Linked DNA regions of Homo sapiens: region 2 is linked to region 1. The links come from fine-mapping of genetic effects on gene expression. A gene starts in region 1. The other region holds a variant in brackets. All regions are shown on one strand. Distances are from middle to middle.

Region 1 (5,379 bases):
AAGGAAAGTGGGAAGTGTAAATTAGCTGCCTGGGTCCCAGAAGTGAATCATTAAACTTGAACACTGAATTTTCCTGTATCCTGAAAACTCCAAAGTATCTTAATTCCAGATGACTAGCGGTTGCTTTTAGCCATATTTTAATACATGGAAGCACTTCTGCATTCCCTCTTTTCCCCAGGCCTGGACCTCAATCCCCAGGTGTCTGCAACTCTTACTTGATATACACACAATGGATAATCAATAATGATTCAGCTAAGGTAAGGACAAAGCCTTTGCCACTTTTTACCTTTATTCTTTTTAGCCAGAGCAAATAGTGATATATTAATAGGAATACTCTTAAAAAATTGCTTTAAATGCCAGACTACCTCCTTCATATGCACCACTTAAATTTCTTTTCTTACCAAATTCCCTATTCAAATCCTTTCTTTAGGATTTACAGGATTCAGATAAATATACAGTGATCTCCACTACTGTACCCCACTATTGCCCCAGCTGAAGACCTGTAAACTATTCATCAGTACAGCATGTATGTGATTTATGAGCACGCTCATATGTATTAGTTCCCTACAGTTTCCATAACAAATTATCAAAACTCGGTAGCTTAAAACAATAGCAACTTATTCTTTCATAATTCTGGAGGCCAGGAATCCAAAATCAGTCTCATGGGGAAGAAAGCATGGTGTTGGCAGGGCTCCCTCCCTCCCTCTGGAGGCTCTGCAAGAGAATCAGTTCCTTGCCTCTTCTAGCTCTGCTGGTTGCCAGGCATTTGGTGACTTGTGGCCACATCACTCCAATATCTGCCTCTGTGGTCACATTGCCTTCTCTTCGGCCTATATCAAATCTGCTTCTCTCTCTCTCTTAGGACCTTTGCGTTTGCATTTAGGACCCACCTAGATAATTCACGATAATCTCTCCATTTCAAGCTACTTAATCACGTATGCAAAGGCACTTTTCCCTTATAAGGTAACATTTACAGGTTTCAGGGATTAGGACCTGACATATTTGAGTGGCCACTGCTCAGCCTACCATATAATTTGGGGCCATCTAGCTGGGGGACGGGTGGATCACAAGAGGCCCTGTTTAATAAATGGTGGAGGTCTAAAGTGGCTCACTCATAACATACTAGATAAAACTAAGTCCTCATTGTAAATGCACAACAACAGTAAGGGCTTTGCATACATACAAATAAATTGCTGTCCTCAATTTGTTTTGGGAGTATAATATTAACTCTATGGCATGGAAACCATTTCACCCACAACACAAGTAAGATAACCGCACTAAGATTAAAAGCAATGAGCGCAGTACAGAGATAGGAGGACCACATCTCTCTCAGCACTCCTGCACCCTTACCTGATGAGCTTCCGCACAGAGAAACAGTCCTACCTAGCATGTCTCTGGGATATGTGGAAGCCCTGGTCCTTTCCCCACACGCCCCCGCCATACCCGGCCACAACGCCTTAATCTCCTGCTGAGAGAAGCAGCAAGAACTGGTTGCCAGTCAAAAAACCTGGGCAACAGCCGACCTCACTTCTACTTTCCCCTGACGTTGGAGTTCAGCATGAGGCACAAACAAAACCTGGAGCAGCCTGAGTGGGGCCTGGAGCAGAGTGCTGTGGAAAAGGATGGAGACTTTCCAGAACTCATTGTGTTGCTGATTGATGCTGATAATGAGGGAAAGCTCTGACCCCCACATGTGGTTTAAAGACAGGGCTCAAGCTGAAAGGGCCCTTGCGCCGGCATTTAACACCATTCCGTCTTGGATGCGAGGCTGTCCTCTCTACCACCAAGTCTTCCCCATCTCCTCCCCCTGTTCGCGGCAGCGCGGTAGACACAGAGTCAGCAGTCACGTTGGGGCAGGTTACTCGGTGATTCTCTTCCCCACAAATCAAATCAGTTTGCGCAGGCCCCTGTGTTCTTCAAGGTCCAGGTTTCAGCGCCACCGTCCCCAGGGGTCTTGCAATCCCCTAAAACAACAGCAGCTCATTCCAGTAAAGAAACAATTTATTGGGCATCTTCCATGTGCAGAACAAACACGAGGCACCGGAAGATTCCAGAAATGAACACGAGTCGCTCCGGGTCCTCAGAAGAACCCCACTCCCACCCCACCATCCTCGTCTCCCGGGCCGCGCCCCGCTTGTACCTGCAACCAACACCTAATCCTAAGACACCGGCCACATCTCCGCGGGGCGCCGGCGGGCGCAGCGGCCCCACCTACGTCGACCTGGCGGCTGGGACGGGGCGGCTCCCCACTCTTCGCCCCTAGGCCCCGCGGAGGCTGCGGGGCGGCTCCTCCTCCTCGGCTGCGGCGCCGGAAGCTGCCCGCGCCCGTCACTCCTCGCGGCTGTGGCGCTCGGGGCGCTGCCCAGTCCGCGCGAGCCGCGTGGGTGACGGTTAGGACGCTCTGCGAGGCTTCGTAGTTGGGGGAGGGGAGGAGGGGGGTGCTCGGCAGCTGCCCGGCGGGGACCCCTCCCGCGCCTGCGACTCCGCCCGCCGGACGCCGTCGCTGGGGCATCCGAGCGTCGAAGTCCCCACCACCGCCCGGGCGCCCTAAGGAGTGGGGGTGTACCCAGCCCGGAGTCAAATCCTGGAGCCCTGCCCCAGAAACTACCCTGGGTTCGGACCTGCACCCGGCGCCCTCTGCCGCTTCTCCCACAGCCTCCTAACTGGTCTCCGGCCCTACTCTTGCCCCCACCCGAGCGCCTCGGGCCACTCTCGTAGCTGTCCCCACCGTGGTCTTCCCAGATAACTCACTGACCCGCACCAGTCTGAGCTCTTACCTGCCAAAGAGTCAAGCCCAATCTGGAGTTGCCCGCCGGGCCTCCTACTCTGACACCCCCACCCGGCCCCACCTCACCCCCCCCTCCCATTCCCACTCCTGGCATTCCCATTTGACCATTTCAAGTTAACAGAATTCACATTTTGCAGCTCTGTTTTCTCTGTCCCCGAATGTTCAAGTTCAAACGTGTTCTCGGCATAGCTGACCCTTCTGCCTCTGGAGACTTGTTCCCTCCGCTGTGCTACAGTTACCCTCTGTCATTATCTCTAATATAGAATTTATCAGATTTTGCTGCCCAAATTATCGATCAAATGGAACGCATCCAGAAAGGCCAGTGTCTGATAGATGCAGCCTGAGGCATTTAATTCTGCTAGCAATCACATTGTGCAGACACCTACAGCAAATAACTTTTTATGTATAAGTTGATTAGAAATATTAGTAAGTCTTACATTAAATAATGTAGCTACAAATTTTAATAAAAATAGATTAAATGCCATTAAAGATTGTTTATCATATCTTTGTAGTTAATCCATTTATTGGCTTATAGAGATCTAGGATTAGCTATAGAATCGAGCATTTTTAACAGGAAGTGAAACCATAAGTATTACATAGAAAGGTAAATAATTTAGGTCTTGTGGTTGGACAAAAAGCAATTTCTAATTTTTTCTTTTTTCTATCAAAACATGAGTGTTCAATGACATAAAAATTTTCCATACCTAATACATGGTTTCCATTGGTGTCTCATTTTGTGCTTGTACCCTGGACACACACAAAAAGGTTTTTTTCTTTTCAACGTCTTTAATTAAAAGGTGTGTTAATTAGTGTAGCATGAAATTATCTACACCCACATATATGTACGAAAAGTTATGTGCCCCTGATTTTACTATAAAATTCATCACATTTTGAAGTGTCCTGCGGTTTTACAACATTTTTTAAATATTGTATTAAAAACAGCTTCTTAGCTTTTTAAATAAAGAATTAAAAGATCAAGAAAGGGATCCAAAGTCCTTTTCCATTCATTCATTCATTCCATCCATATTTATAGGGCACCTACAACATGCTATGTGTAGGTTGTGACAATAAAGCTGGGGCCCTCTCCCTCTCCCTCTCCCCCTCCCCCTCCCCCTCCTTTTCCCTCTCCAAGGTCTCCCTCTCCCTCTCTTTCCACGGTCTCCCTCTGATGCCCAGCCGAAGCTGGACTGTACTGCTGCCATGTCGGCTCTCTGCAACCTCCCTGCCTGATTCTCCTGCCTCAGCCTGCGGAGTGCCTGCCATTGCAGGCGCGCGCCGCCACGCCTGACTGGTTTTCGTATTTTTCTGGTGGAGACGGGGTTTCGCTGTGCTGGCCGGGCTGGTCTCCAGCTCCTAACCGCGAGTGATCCGCCAGCCTCGGCCTCCGGAGGTGCCGGGATTGCAGACGGTGTCTGGTTCACTCAGTGCTCAATGGTGCCCAGGCTGGAGTGCAGTGGCGTGATCTCGGCTCGCTACAACCTCCACCTCCCAGCCGCCTGCCTTGGCCTCCCAAAGTGCGGAGAGTGCTGCCTCTGCCCGGCCGCCACCCCGTCTGGGAAGTGAGGAGCGTCTCTGCCTGGCCGCCTATCTTCTGGGATGTGAGGAGCCCCTCTGCCTGGCTGCCCAGTCTGGAAAGTGAGGAGTGCCTCTTCCCGGCCGCCATCCCATCTAGGAAGCGAGGAGCGTCTCTGCCCGGCCGCTCATCGTCTGAGATGTGGGGAGCGCCTTTGCCCCGCCGCCCCGTCTGCGGTGTGAGGAGCGCCTCTGCCCGGCCGCGACCCCGTCTGGGAGGTGAGGAGCATCTCTGCCCAGCTGCCCCGTCTGAGAAGTGAGGAGACCCTCTGCCTGGCAACTGTCCCGTCTGAGAAGTGAGGAGCCCCTCCGCCTGGCAGCCGCCCCATCTGAGAAGTGAGGAGCCCCTCCGCCCGGCAGCCACCCCGTCTGGGAAGTGAGGAGCGTCTCCGCCCGGCAGCCACCCCGTCCGGGAGGGAGGTGGGGGTCAGCCCCTCTGCCCGGCCAGCCGCCCCATCCGGGAGGGAGGTGGGGGGGTCAGCCCCCCGCCCGGCCAGCCACCCCATCCGGGAGGTGAGGGGCGCCTCTGCCCGGCCGCCCCTACTGGGAAGTGAGGAGCCCCTCTGCCTGGCCACCACCCCGTCTGGGAGGTGTACCCAACAGCTCATTGAGAACGGGCCATGATGACAATGGTGGTTTTGTGGAATAGAAAGGGGGGAAAGGTGGGGAAAAGATTGAGAAATCGGATGGTTGCCGTGTCTGTGTGGAAAGAAGTAGACATGGGAGACTTTTCATTTTGTTCTGTACTAAGAAAAATTCTTCTGCCTTGGGATCCTGTTGAACTGTGACCTTACCCCCAAACCTGTGCTCTCTGAAACATGTGCTGTGTCCACTCAGGGTTAAATGGATTAAGGGCGGTGCAAGATGTGCTTTGTTAAACAGATGCTTGAAGGCAGCATGCTCGTTAAGAGTCACCACCACTCCCTAATCTCAAGTACCCAGGGACACAAACACTGCGGAAGGCCGCAGGGTCCTCTGCCTAGGAAAGCCAGAGACCTTTGTTCACTTGTTTCTTTGTT
Region 2 (5,379 bases), 40 kb before region 1:
AAATAGCTAAGGTGTGAGAAACTGACTACAAGTGACAGAACTGTATGTAAATTGTTTCTGCTTGGCTGTCTAAGGGTCTCTTATAGGTAGGATGACTAAATATAGACTTTATCTTCCAAATGGGGACACTATGGAGATGAGAGGTAGCATTCATAAAACAGGACACTGGGCTAGCGGGTGTAAACCGAGACTGTCCCAGGCAAGCCGCCTTGGGTGATCACCCTTCTCACAGGGAATGAAGACCACCACTCCTCTTAATGGCAGCTCCTTGTTTGTTTTTTAGGGTCTTACTGTTTTACAAATGGTTGAAATGAACAAAAGTCTAAACTCTGGATAAACAGATGACAATGATACTGAATAGCTTCTCTTTAGCTATGGAAAGTGAAAGAAAAAAACAGAATATCAAATATTAATGTGGTTTTAAAAGGAATTACATGATGATGAGAGATGACTTATCCTCCTAATTAATTTTTATGTAATTAATTCATTTAATTAATCTTAACATTAATTCAGTTTGGTAGCTTCACAATGATTAGGAGTTAGGAGTTGAAGTAAGAGAGGAGGTAGGCCCCAAAAATATTGAGTAGCAGGGGGATCTGGCTGGTATGGAAGTATTTGCTAAAGTTTAGCTAAGTAAAAATAATTAAGATGGTCTCATTTTTAATGCATTTTTTAGAAACTCACTTGAACTATGCAAAAAATTTTGCTAAGAATGAATCAGAGTACACAATTTAAATAAAAATAGTTTATAAATAGTTTAAAATATAATTTAGCATGCTCTTACTCCAGCTTATAAACTGCTTTTAATTTGAAATTACTTTGATTCCTTATTTTCAAATAAACTATTACTAATATAATATTGATTCTGGATATTAAAGTCTCTAGAAACAGACCAGCAAAACCTAAACTCACCTTGTCTTCATACATCCTTTTGGCTTCCCTTAATTCAGAACGTAGCTGAGAAACAGTAGATTCCAGATCGCTGAGCTGACGCATATACATAGAGTTTTGGTTTCTTGCTTGCTCTCTAAGAAGAGTTTAGAAGGGGAATAAGTGCAAATAGCAAACTAAGAATAAGAGTAACACCTGAGTATTCTAGCTTTTTGACACTACCACTAGTTATTTTATATGGCATTATTAAGCCAATAGTCTTTTATTTTCCAAAACTGACTCTCAAAAGTTTCACCTCAAATATATTGTAAACTGCTGAAGCTGGGTGACAGCTGTATGGGAGTGCATTACACTATTTTCTCTCTACTTTTGTATATGATAGAAAATGTCCATATAAAAAGTTTTAACATACAACTCAAATAAAATTATTTCTACACATATGCATACATTTTACTTATATATATTCATATATATTACACACACACACACACACACACACACACACACACACACGGTTTGGCTCTGTGTCCCCACCCAAATCTCATGTCAAATTGTAATCCCCACATGTCAGGGGAGGGACCTGGTGGGAGGTGATTGGACTGTGGGGGCAGATTTCCCCCATACTGTTCTCATGATAGTGAGTTCTCACAACATCTGATGGTTTAAAAGTATGGCACTTCCCCCCTTTCCTGCTCCGCCATGGTAAGATGTGTTTGCTTTCCCCATGATTGTAAGTTTCCTGAGGCCTCCTAGTCATGATTTGTTAAGCCTGTGGAACTGTGAGTCAACTAAACTTCTTTTCTTTATAAATTACCCAGTCTTGGATAGTTCTTTATAGTAGTGTAAGAATGGATTAATACAGAAAACTGGTACCAGGAGAGTGGGGCACTGCTATAAAGATATCTGAAAATGTGAAAGTGAATTTGGAACTAGGTAACAGGCAGAGGTTGGAACAGTTTGGAGGGATCAGAAGACAGAAAGACGAGGGAAAGTCTGGAACTTCCTAGAGACTTGTTGAATGGTTGTGACCAAAATGCTGATAGTGATATGGACAAAGAGTCCAGGCTGAGGTGGTCTCAGATGGAGATGAGGAACTTCTTGGGAACTGGAGTAAAGATCACTCTCACTATGCTTTAGCAAAGAGACTGGTAGCATTTTGCCCCTGCCCTAAAGATCTGTGGAACTTTGATCTAGACAGAGATGATTCAGGGTGTC[G/T]GGCAGAAGAAATTTCTAAGCAGCAAAGCATTCAAGATGTCACCTGACTGTTTCTGAAAGCATACAGTCATATATATTTACAAAGAGATGGTGTGAAATTGCAACTTCTATTTAAAAGGGAAGCACAGTGTAAAAGTTTGGAAAATTTGCAGCCTGACCATGTGGTAGAAAAGAAAAACCCATTTCCTGGGGAGAAATTCAAGCTGCCGGCTGCAGAAATTTGCATAAGAAGAGGTGCAAGACAATGGGGAAAATGTCTCCGGGGCATGTCAGAGATCTTTAGGCAGCCCCTTCCAACACAGGCCTTGTGACTTAGGAGGAAGAAATGGTTTTGTAAGCCAGGGCCCTCTCTATCGCTCTGTGCGTCCTCGGTACATGGCACCCTGTGTCCCAGCTGCTCCAGCTCCAGCCATGGCTAAAATGGGCCAAGGTACAGCTCGGGCTGTTGCTTCAAAGGGTGCAAGCCCCAAGACTAGGCAGCTTCCATGTGGTGTTGAGCCTGGAGGTGTACAGAAAGCAAGAGTTGAGGTTTGGAAACCTCTGCCTAGATTTCATAGCATGTATGGAAATGCCTGGATGTCCAGGCAGACATCTGCTGTAGGAGTAGAGCCCTCATGGGGAACCTCTACTAGGGTAATGTGGAGGGGAAATGTGGGGTTGGAACCCCCACACAGAGTCCCCACTGGGGCACTGCTTAGTGGAGCTGTGAGAAGAGGGCCACTACCCTCCAGACCCCAGAATGGTAGATCTACAGGCAGCTTGCACTGTGCACGTGGAAAAACTACAGGCACTCAGTGTAGCCTGTGAAAGCAGCTGCGGAGGCTGTACAATGCAGAGCAACAAGGGCAGAGCTGCCCAACGCCTTGGGAGCCCTGCCTTGCATCAGTGTGCCCTGGAAGTGAGACATGGAGTCAAAGGAGATTATTTCAGAGCTTTAAGATTTAATGACTGCACAGCTGGATTTTGGACTTGCATGGGGCCTGCAGCCCCTTTGTTTTGGCCTATTTTTCCCATTTGGAATAGGAGCATTTACCCAATGCCTGTAACCCAGTTGTATCTTGGAAATAACAAACTTGTTTTTTATTTTACAGGCTTATAGGTGGAACGGACTTATTTTGTCTCAGATGAGACTTTGGACTGAATTTCTGAGTTAATGCTTAAATGAGTTAAGACTAGGGGACTGTTGAGAAGGGATAATTATATTTTTTTTATTTTTGAGATGGAGTCTTGCTCTGTCGCCCAGGTTGGAGTGCAGTGGCGTGATCTTGGCTCACTGCAAGCTCTGCCTCCCGGGTTCATGCCATTCTCCTGCCTCAGCCTCCTGAGTAGCTGGGACTACAGGTGCCCACCACCATGCCCAGCTAATTTTTTGTATTTTTAGTGGAGACAGGGTTTCACCGTGTTAGCCAGGATGCTCTCGATCTCCTGACCTCGTGATCTGCCCGCCTCAGCCTCCCAAAGTGCTGGGAATATAGGCGTAAGCCACCATGCCCAGCCAATAATTGTATTTTAAAATGTGAGAAAGACATGATATTTGGGATATTACAAATCTGAATTGTAATCACCATGTGTCAGGGGAGGGGCCTTGTGGGAGGTAACTGGATCATGGGGACAGATTTCCCCCATGCTTTTCCCGTGATAGCGAGTGAGTTCTCATGAGATCTGATGATTTAAAAGTGTGGCACATCCCCATTCTCTCTCTCTCTTGCTTTGCCATGGTATGATGTGCTTGCTTCCCCTTTGTTTTCTGTCATAATTGTAAGTTTCCTGAGGCCTCCCACTCACGACTCCTGTTAAGCCTGTGGAACTAGGAGTCAATTAAATCTCTTTTCTTCATAAATTACCCAGTCTTGGTTAGTTCTTTATAGCAGTGTAAGAATGGACAAATATGAATACTTAAAACAGCCAATCCCAGGAGCCCCAAATACTTGCAAAAATACTTCTTATATGGTCAGATAACAGTACCTATGTTACATAATACTTCCTGTTCATTTAAATGTTAGAAAAATGTTTCACTTTCTTATGAAATCTTACTAAGCAAGTTCTAAAAGATTATAGAACAGAAAGTTAATGAGAATAATATCTTTAAAATGAAGATGAATGACTAACAGTTTCAAACCACATACTGAATGATTTCCATTTGACTCTGGATACTATTGGCTTGGCTTCGAGCACTGCTAGCTTTCTCAGTAAGTCCTGTTATTTCAACTTCATGTTCACTTATTAACTGCTCAATCCTATAAAAAGAATGTGGTGATTGTCATTTGATACAGAAGATTTTCCTGACTATGAATTATTTTAAAAATTAATGATTTTCAATACTCTCAAATTTAGTATTTTGCTTTGCTTTTGTATATGCTACTCTTTTAATAACAAGTGTCTACAACAAGTCCAAAACCCTTTATCCAAATCTTTTGGGAGTCAGATAGTTTTGGAATTCAGAATTTTTTTTTATTTTACAATGGTAATAAATTGCAAGTAGTAAATATTATATGACACCCCCAATGAGATCTAGGGAAGTGTCCCATTAACGAAACATATCATGAATGCAATAATTTATAAGTATTCACACTAAATTGTAGACTATGGAAAGGTTTACATTAGCTCTGGTCAGGTTTTTCCAACAAATGAGTGACAAAAACTCTCTCCTTCACCAAACTTTAGTCAGACTCTTCTGAGGCCTCTTTTCAACTATGCCTCAACCTTTGGCCTGCCTAGCCCAGACCTAGCAAGAATCTTGCCAAGTCAGTTTAGTCCTCCCACCCTCGATATCTGATCAAGTTCTTCATCCCCTGCCTTTGATATCTAAGCCCTTGGCCTGCATTTAGCAAGAATCCCCCTACTCTTGATGCCTTTTCTCAGTAATTTTCCATCCACAGACCCCCTCACCATGCCCCCTGGCTATAAATCCCCATTTGGCCTTGTATTGGGAGCTGAGCTTAATCTCTCTCTCTCTCTCTCCTACAGCAATACTCCTATTGTAATCATCTCAAATGACATCTTCCTTACGATTTTATAACCAGGGTCAGGAAAACAAAATGTTAACATGAGTTTCCTATAAACCTATAAAAAAACTTATGTGTTTCAGAGCTGTTTAGATTTTGGAATTGTGGCCGAAACACTGTAAAACTGTGGTTTAGTTTCGCTAGGCTTTTCCATACCTCAGTCAGAAACCTACCTATCTTGGTGTTGTTGCAGAAGTAGTTCTATTTTGTTCTGTGATTCAGATTTCAGTGCTTCAAGTTGATCCTCTACCTGGTTTTTAAAAAGAGA

Direction of the effects. Positions count from the first base shown, and alleles are read on the strand shown. Sizes are in standard deviations (SD) of each study's normalised expression.
With allele G in place of T in region 2, the expression in atrial appendage of the gene that starts at base 2,317 in region 1 is lower (small effect, 0.34 SD a copy in GTEx).

The links. PIP is the estimated chance that this variant, and not a neighbour inherited with it, causes the effect.
Region 2: its variant is fine-mapped to the expression of CCDC158 in atrial appendage (GTEx, PIP above 0.99). The same link has a PIP of 0.9 or more in prefrontal cortex.

Annotation. Positions count from the first base shown.
Region 1 is chr4:76,418,825-76,424,203 of GRCh38, forward strand. It overlaps CCDC158 (coiled-coil domain containing 158), which reads right to left and starts at 2,317. Exons shown (of 25, transcript NM_001394954.1): 1 at 2,141-2,317.
Region 2 is chr4:76,378,378-76,383,756 of GRCh38, forward strand. It overlaps CCDC158 (coiled-coil domain containing 158), which reads right to left. Exons shown (of 25, transcript NM_001394954.1): 7 at 5,285-5,361; 8 at 4,233-4,343; 9 at 913-1,027. Among named protein-coding and RNA genes, the nearest start is that of CCDC158, 40 kb to the right of the region's middle. RefSeq lists an enhancer at 2,197-2,701. The variant G/T (reference allele first, on the strand shown) is at 2,107.